Regions from separate parts of the Homo sapiens genome. Here all the other regions are linked to region 3. The links come from fine-mapping of genetic effects on gene expression. A gene starts in region 3. Each other region holds a variant in brackets. All regions are shown on one strand. Distances are between the middles of the regions.

Region 1 (2,761 bases), 130 kb before region 3:
TGAAAACTGACACAAGACAAGGATGCCCTCTGTCACCACTCCTATTATTCAAAATAGTATTGGAAGCTGTGGCCAAGGCAATCAGGCAAGAGAAATAAATAAATGGTATTCAAATAGGAAAAGAGGAAATCAGATTGTCTCTGTTTGCATATGACATGATTGTATATTTAGAAAACCCCATTGTCTCAGCCCGAAAAACTCCTTAAGCTGAAAAACAACTTCAGCAAAGTCTCAGGATACAAAATCAACGTGCAAAACTCAAAAGCATTCCTGTACACAAATAATAGACAAGCAGAGAGCCAAATCATGAGTGAACTCCCATTCACAATTGCTACAAAGAAAATAAAATACCTAGGAATACAACTTAGAAGGGATATGAAGGACCTCTTCAAGGAGAACTACAAACCACTGCTCAAGGAAATAAGAGAGGACACAAACAAATGAAAAAACTTTCCATGCTCATGGATGGAAAGAATCAATATTGTGAAAATGGTCATACTGCCCAAATAATTTATAAATTCAGTGCTATCCTCATCAAACTACCATTGACTTTTTTCACAGAATTAGAAAAAACTACTTTAAAGTTCATGTGGTACCAAAAAAGAGCCCATATAACCAAGACAATCCTAAACAAAAAGAACGAAGCTGAAGGCATCACGCTACCTGACTTCAAACTATAATACAAGGCTACAGTCACCAGAACAACATGGTACTGGTAATGAAACAGATATATAGACCAATGGAACAGAACAGAGGCCTCAGAAATACCACCACACATCTACAACCATCTGATCTTTGACAAACCTGACAGAAACAAGCAATGGGGAAAGGATTCCCTATTCAATAAATGGTGCTGGGAAAACTGGCTAGCCATATGCAGAAAACAGAAACTGGACCCATTTACACCTTATACAAAAATGAGCTCAAGATGGATTAAAGGAGGGAGGAGCCAAGATGGCCGAATAGGAACAGCTCCTGTCTACAGCTCCCAGCGTGAGCGATGCAGAAGACAGGTGATTTCTGCATTTCCATCTGAGGTACCGGGTTCATCTCACTTGGGAGTGCCAGACAGTGGGCGCAGGTCAGTGGGTGTGTGCACCGTGCGCGAGCCAAAGCAGGGCGAGGCATTGCCTCACTTGGGAAGCGCAAGGGGTCAGGGAGTTCACTTTCCGAGTCAAAGAAAGGGGTGACAGACACACCTGGAAAATCCGGTCACTCCCACCCAAATACTGCGCTTTTCCGACTGGCTTAAAAAACGGCGCACCACGAGATTATATCCTGCACCTGGCTCGGAGGGTCCTATGCCCACGGAGTCTCGCTGATTGCTAGCACAGCAGTCTGAGATCAAACTGCAAGGCGGCAGCAAGGCTGGGGGAGGGGCGCCCGCCATTGCCCAGGCTTGCTTAGGTAAACAAAGCAGCTGGGAATCTCCAACTGGGTGGAGCCCACCACAGCTCAAGGAGGCCTGCCTGCCTCTGTAGGCTCCAC[C/T]TCTGGGGGCAGGGCACAGACAAACAAAAAGACAGCAGTAACCTCTGCAGACTTAAATGTCCCTGTCTGACAGCTTTGAAGAGAGCAGTGGTTCTCCCAGCACGCAGCTGGAGATCTGAGAACCGGCAGACTGCCTCCTCAAGTGGCTCCCTGACCCCGAGCAGCCTAACTGGGAGGCACCCCCCAGCAGGGGCAGACTGACACCTCACACGGCAATGTACTCCAACAGACCTGCAGCTGAGGGTCCTGTCTGTTAGAAGGAAAACTAACAAACAGAAAGGACATCCACACCAAAAACCCATCTGTACATCACCATCATCAAAGACCAAAAGTAGATAAAACCACAAAGATGGGGAAAAAACAGAACAGAAAAACTGGAAACTCTAAAAAGCAGAGTGCCTCTCCTCCTCCAAAGGAACACAGTTCCTCACCAGCAACGGAACAAAGCTGGATGGAGAATGACTTTGACGAGCTGAGAGAAGAAGGCTTCAGACGATCAAATTACTCTGAGCTACGGGAGGACATTCAAACCAAAGGCAAAGAAGTTGAAAACTTTGAAAAAAATTTAGAAGAATGTATAACTAGAATAACCAATACAGAGAAGTGCTTAAAGGAGCTGATGGAGCTGAAAGCCAAGGCTCGAGAACTACGTGAAGAACGCAGAAGCCTCAGGAGCCAATGCAATCAACTGGAAGAAAGGGTATCAGTGATGGAAGATGAAATGAATGAAATGAAGTGAGAAGGGAAGTTTAGAGAAAAAAGAATAAAAAGAAATGAGCAAAACCTCCAAGAAATATGGGACTATGTGAAAAGACCAAATCTACGTCTGATTGGTGTACCTGAAAGTGATGGGGAGAATGGAACCAAGTTGGAAAACACTCTGCAGGATATTATCCAGGAGAACTTCCCCAATCTAGCAAGGCAGGCCAACGTTCAGATTCAGGAAATACAGAGAACGCCACAAAGATACTCCTCGAGAAGAGCAACTCCAAGACACATAATTGTCAGATTCACCAAAGTTGAAATGAAGGAAAAAATGTTAAGGGCAGCCAGAGAGAAAGGTCGGGTTACCATCAAAGGGAAGCCCATCAGACTAACAGCGGATCTCTCGGCAGAAACCCTACAAGCCAGAAGAGACTGGGGGCAAATATTCAACATTCTTATAGAAAAGAATTTTCAACCCAGAATTTCATATCCAGCCAAACTAAGCTTCATAAGCGAAGGAGAAATAAAATACTTTACAGACAAGCAAATGCTGAGAGATTTTGTCACC
Region 2 (2,761 bases), 22 kb before region 3:
TCATACGACTTAAACCAGCCAGGTTTCTTAGGTCTTAAAGAAGAAAGTTTCTCAAAAGGAACAATGTTTCTCCGTGCCAGATCCTTTGCCTCATATGTTTTCACACAACAAGGTGTCTTGATATTATATACTTAAGATTCCTTACTGGGAGCAATTCTCACAGGTTTATACATTTTTTTAAAATTCTCATACAAATACACAGTAAGCAATACCAATGTTTTATTTAACTCATTAATAACAGAAGCAGAAATATGACATACCCAGTTAAAAGCAGAATGAAGGAAACGTATGTATGGATAGCCAATGAAAGGGGAAAAAACGAACACAGAGGCCAGGCACAGTGGCTCACTCCTATAATCCCAGCACTTTGGGAGGCCAAGGCGGACGGATCACTTGAGGTCAGGAGTTCAAGACGAGCCTGGCCAACATGGTGAAACCCCGTCTCTATTAAAAATACAAAAATTAGCTGGGGGTGGTGGCAGGCATCTGTAATCCCAGCTACTCAGGAGGCTGAGGCAGGAGAATTGCTTGAACCTGGGAGACGGAGGTTGCAGTGAGCCGAGATCCTGAGACAGTGCCACTGCACTCCAGCCTAGGAGACAGAGGAAGACATTGTCTCAAAAAACAACAACAAAAATGCAGAAATGAGACAATGAGACTGCCAAATTAGGTAGGTGCAGGCAAGTTCATATCCTCTAGGGCAGTGCCACTACATAACTTCTCATGTTCTCTTTTCACCAAGCATTTACATTGTCACTGGACAAAAACCATTCCCATCACTATCAGGGCAAGACATTTGCATCTTATCAGTTTTCTCCAAGCCATCATCTCCCAGGCAGGATTGTAAAAATGTCTGAATTGATGGAAAATAGTAAATCAAGCCCACTTAATCCAGATGATCCTCAGGGACCTTGTAAGACAAAGCATGGCAATGAAGACACATGGTCCTTTTTGTGCCTAACTTGCAGTGTGTAAAGAGGCTTTTTTTTTTTTTTTAAGACAGAGTCTTGCTCTGTCACCGGGATGGAGTACAGTGGTGCAATCTCAGCTCACTGCAACCTCCGCCTCCCAGTTTCAAGCGATTCCCCTGCATCAGCCTCCCGAATAGCTGAGGCTACAGGCGCATGCCACCACAGCCAGCTAGTTTTTTGTATTTTAGTAGACATGGGGTTTCACCATGTTGGCCAGGATAGTCTCGATCTCCTGACCTCGTGATCCACCAGCCTCGGCCTCCCAAAGTGCTGGGATTACAGGCATGAGCCACCG[C/T]GCTCAGCCGTAAAGAGGCTTTTTAAAGACAATTTTTCTCTCTTTCCTTTTTTTTTTTTTTTTTCCTCTGAGACAGTGTCTTACTCTGCCATCCAGGCTGGTGTACAGTGATGTGATTACAGCTCACTGCAGTCTTTTTTTTTTTTTTGCATAAACATTCTGATTTAATAAATGGTATGAATATATATTTTGCATACTTTACAATAAAGAAAATTTTGAAAGAAAATTGATCTAAAACTGTTTCCCTCCAATTTCCATGGTAAAGTCAACTGCATACAGTTCTTTCCATGTATAAGTTTTACATTTGTATTTTCTACAATTAAATAAATCTAAATGTTAAATTTTAGCACATATATCCAATTATGTACAAAATTACAATGTCAATTTATAAGTCAAGCTTACTTAAAAATCATAAATTACAAAAAACACATTATGAATAATTTTGTTCTGGAAGTATCATACCAACTCATACGATCTAGGTGAACCCAAAAGTAAAAAACAATGATTATAAATTACAGTAGTGTCTGTAAAACCCTGTTATAAAGGAGGTATTCTTTTAAAATATGTACCTTATATATAAAAGCTCCTGACTCCTTTTAAGGACCAAAATTATTTTCAGTTTAACCATTTTCATTAAAATGCTTATTTAAAAGTATCGCCTTATAAAACTGAGTATATAAAATACAATGCAGCCCTTGATAACTAAGAATCTTTATAAATGCTAATTATTTAGTGACCTGTTTATCAAACTATTTCTGTGGATGGGGTGATTTTTTTTCTTCCTCTAAATTAAGTGGCCCTAGACTAATATATTTATATAGTTATTCTGTTTTCTTCCGTACTGTCATTTCACATCTCTATCAGTGAGTTCCTCAGGATTTGCCTTTATTTTACAACTATGAAAGTCTTCAATCCAATTCCCTGCTTCCACACATAGGACACAGAAAGCCTAAACTTTCCTTTTTTCTGGGCTCCAATGGGAAGCAGCATTTACAACGTGTCTGGCTTGGTAGGAGGAAGATTGTCAATTGAGGTATCATGTGTGTTCACCTGCCTATCTTGCCCTATTTCTTTGGTTGCTGTAAATTTCCTGCTTCTCAAATATCTGGATTTTTGGCTACCTATTTGGCTTCCGTCTTTGGTGTTTATATCTGTCTGGTTTTAGCAGGTCTCTCTGATTCCTGACTCACAGCTCCTCTCCTTCACTAATATTCAAGTGTGCTGCTTGCCTAACTCCTCATTCCTTCTCCTTGAATTTCACTTTACAATTGCACTAGGTTCTATCATCGTTGGCCACAGATTACCACAAAACATAATTTCTTAAATTCTGCACATTTCTAATGCTTCTAATCTTGGTTTCCTACAAGATCTAACACTAAGCTTGTGTTATCCTGATTACAGTGTATGTAAAACAATGCTTGTGGAAAACTAACCTAGGAGAAAGCTTATAGGGGAAACCTGATAATGAATTTTATTAAATTAATAACCCTTATAA
Region 3 (2,761 bases):
AATAAAAATAACTGTACACAAACTGAAACACATCAAATATGTTAAAACCCACGTGTTCATAAGGATATTTTTTAAAAACACTAGGCATCTTTGGAGGATGGAAAAGAATCACCCTATTATTCCAAAAGCTGGTAAATAAAGGAAAAGATTCAAGCATTTCCTAACTGAATTGTCCTCACGGAATGCAATTTAAAACTACAACAAACCCCAAAGCTACAAACCAATACTTGTAAGGTAGCCATATATGTATGCAAAAACAGAAAAATATTTGGAAGAATACGCACCAGGTTGTACAGAGGGGAAAGGCTGTACAGATGGGAAGGATGGTCAAAGGGGACATTAGTTTTTATGCTAATAGTTTTGGTTTTTGGCTTTTGGCTTTTTTTGAGACATGATCTCATTTTGTCACCCAGGCTGGAGTGCAGTGGCACTATCACAGCTCACTGCAGGAAGCCTCAGCCTCCCCAGCTCAAGTGATCCTCCCACCTCAGCCTCCCAAGAAGCTAGGACTATAAGCACATACCATTATCCTTGGCTAATTTTAATATTTTTTGTAGGGATGGGATCTCACTATGTTGCCCAGGCTAGAGTTTCGGTTTTTCAGACAAAGTGAATGTGTTCACGTATTTCTCCTGGAATTAAATACATTCTTTCTTTTTTAAGTCGAAGCTTTAGAGTCAGAGCCTCCTAAGTTCGAATTCCCTCTCTGACTTTTGGGCAGCCCCCTCTCTATACTTACCAGTATATCATTCCTCCTATCCATGAAGTTGGCAGTAATTATGCCTACTTCATAGGATTGCTTATTAACTACCTGGTGTGGATTAAATAAAAGAAGTGTTTAGCATGGTGTCTGGACCCCTGAGCACTTGGGAAATGTGGCTGCTATTGGGTCTAAAGGAAGAAGGAAACTAAGAAGGAATTGGAGGGAAGGAGGGAAAGTAGAGGGACTGGCCCTGCCTGGAGGCGAGGGAGACAGAGCCCTTTCTGACAGCCCCCATTGCCACCCACACAGCTGGAGCCCTTTCCCTGGACCCTCCCTCCCCAGCTAATCCCTCCCACTGAGGATGATGTGACAGAGGAGGCGGCCTGTGGGGTAAACCAAGGGCTGCTCTCCCTGAGCCCACCATTCCTGCCTTCAGGAGGCTTAGCAGAGCCACTGGTAGTTTGGCCAGAGGAGGGCTTGGAAAAGCATAAACGCAAACTTTGGCCACAGTAGAACCAGACCCCATGCGGCAGCTGAGGCTGGGGAGCCTCCAGGGTCATAACCCAGCACCGTGGTTCCTTCCCACAGTGTCTGAGAGAGCCAGACCCCCAGAACTCAGCATGTGCCCATGTGCCCTCCATGCCAGAGCTGTAGACCAACAAGAATACACATAATCATCACTAATAGGGTGGTTGTTCCTCAAATCAAAGCTTTAAAACCGTTTCTGGGGACTTACCAAAGCCATCCTTCCTTCAAGATGATGTCTTGTGTGTTGCTGACTCTGTGTCCAGCCTTAAATTAGCTCTGAGTTTCACTTTCCCTGTGACCCAGCCCATATACAACTATTTCAGAACATAGGCTGGGTGCGGTGGCTCACACCTGTAATCCCAGCACTTTGAGAGGCTGAGGCGGGAGGATCACAAGGTCAGGAGATCGAGACCATCCTGACTAACACGGTGAAACCCCGTCTCTCCTAAAAAATAGAAAAAATTAGCTGGGCATGGTGGTGGGCACCTGTAGTCCCAGCTACTCCAGAGGCCGAGGCAGGAAATGGCGTCAACCCAGTAGGCAGACCTTGCAGCGAGCAGAGGTCGTGCCACTGCACTCTAGCCTGGGCGGCAGGGCGAGACTCAGTCAAAAAAAAAAAAAAAAAAAAAACAGAACATAGATCAAGGTTCATGTAAAATTTTCCCTGTCTTCAAACAGGGGCAGAGCACATATCAAGTAGGCAAGGCGGCATGAAAATCAGCCAGACAGAAGAGGAATCAGAGCTCAGGATATAGATTGAGAAGGACTTAGTGGCAGTGTGGTCAGGGGCACAGCTGACAATCACCAAGTTTCAGGTGGAACAAGCAAGATCCAGTGGTTGTGGGGGCAAGGGAGGATATAGAGACAGAGACCATGGGGGAAAATTTCAAAAAGGAGAGAGGAGCCCCAGAGAGACTGAGATTCATGCCTCCAAATTGGGAATGATGGTTGCCGGGACAGGCAAACATTTCCACCAACCTCAAACCCCATGGCCCTAGAAAAATCGTATTATTGGAGGCACATTCCTCTACCCTGGAAACAGAGTGAGCCTGCTTGGACAGCAGTATAGAAACCACTCCCCTTTCTGCCTCTCACCCACAGTTCAGAAACACTCATTCCACACCAAATGGAAACCAAAACCCAGTACTGGGTGTGTAGAGGTTGCTTCTTTGAGGCACCTGCATGCTTATCTCACCCAAGCTCCAAATAAGTATCTCTTCTGTCATCTACATATAGTTGTCCGGTCCTGAGCAAACTGGACAGGAAGGGGTGGGTGGGGCTGGGGGGAGCTGAGCATCCTCACTGTGGGGCATGGGGGCGAGGACCAATAACTTACCCTCTTCAGGCTATAAACAAACAAACAAACAAAGAGCTTTAGTGTGGGGATGCAGATGGACTGGAGCCAGAACTGGAAAACTCTTTGGGAGCCACAGCAGTTCTGCATGACCAGCTACTCCCTCAGCTCACGTGGTCATGTGGTCTTGCTCCCATGGAGACGGCCTCTCTCAGCACCTCCACTCCATTCTCCTC

Evidence for each region. PIP is the estimated chance that this variant, and not a neighbour inherited with it, causes the effect. A credible set is the group of variants that fine-mapping cannot tell apart.
Region 1: its variant is the best candidate, but not a certain one, in a credible set for the expression of PLAAT2 in whole blood (INTERVAL, PIP 0.66).
Region 2: its variant is the best candidate, but not a certain one, in a credible set for the expression of PLAAT2 in whole blood (INTERVAL, PIP 0.59).

The regions. Positions count from the first base shown.
Region 1 is chr11:63,434,365-63,437,125 of GRCh38, forward strand. No RefSeq gene overlaps it. Among named protein-coding and RNA genes, the nearest start is that of PLAAT5, 55 kb to the right of the region's middle. RefSeq lists enhancers at 653-1,205, 1,206-1,757. The variant C/T (reference allele first, on the strand shown) is at 1,489.
Region 2 is chr11:63,540,215-63,542,975 of GRCh38, forward strand. The region is part of intron 2 of PLAAT4 (phospholipase A and acyltransferase 4); the gene reads left to right. Among named protein-coding and RNA genes, the nearest start is that of PLAAT4, 4.8 kb to the left of the region's middle. The variant C/T (reference allele first, on the strand shown) is at 1,267.
Region 3 is chr11:63,561,877-63,564,637 of GRCh38, forward strand. PLAAT2 (phospholipase A and acyltransferase 2) reads right to left here and starts at 1,503. Exons shown (of 4, transcript NM_017878.2): 1 at 1,440-1,503. The coding sequence starts at 1,448. RefSeq lists a silencer at 2,460-2,539.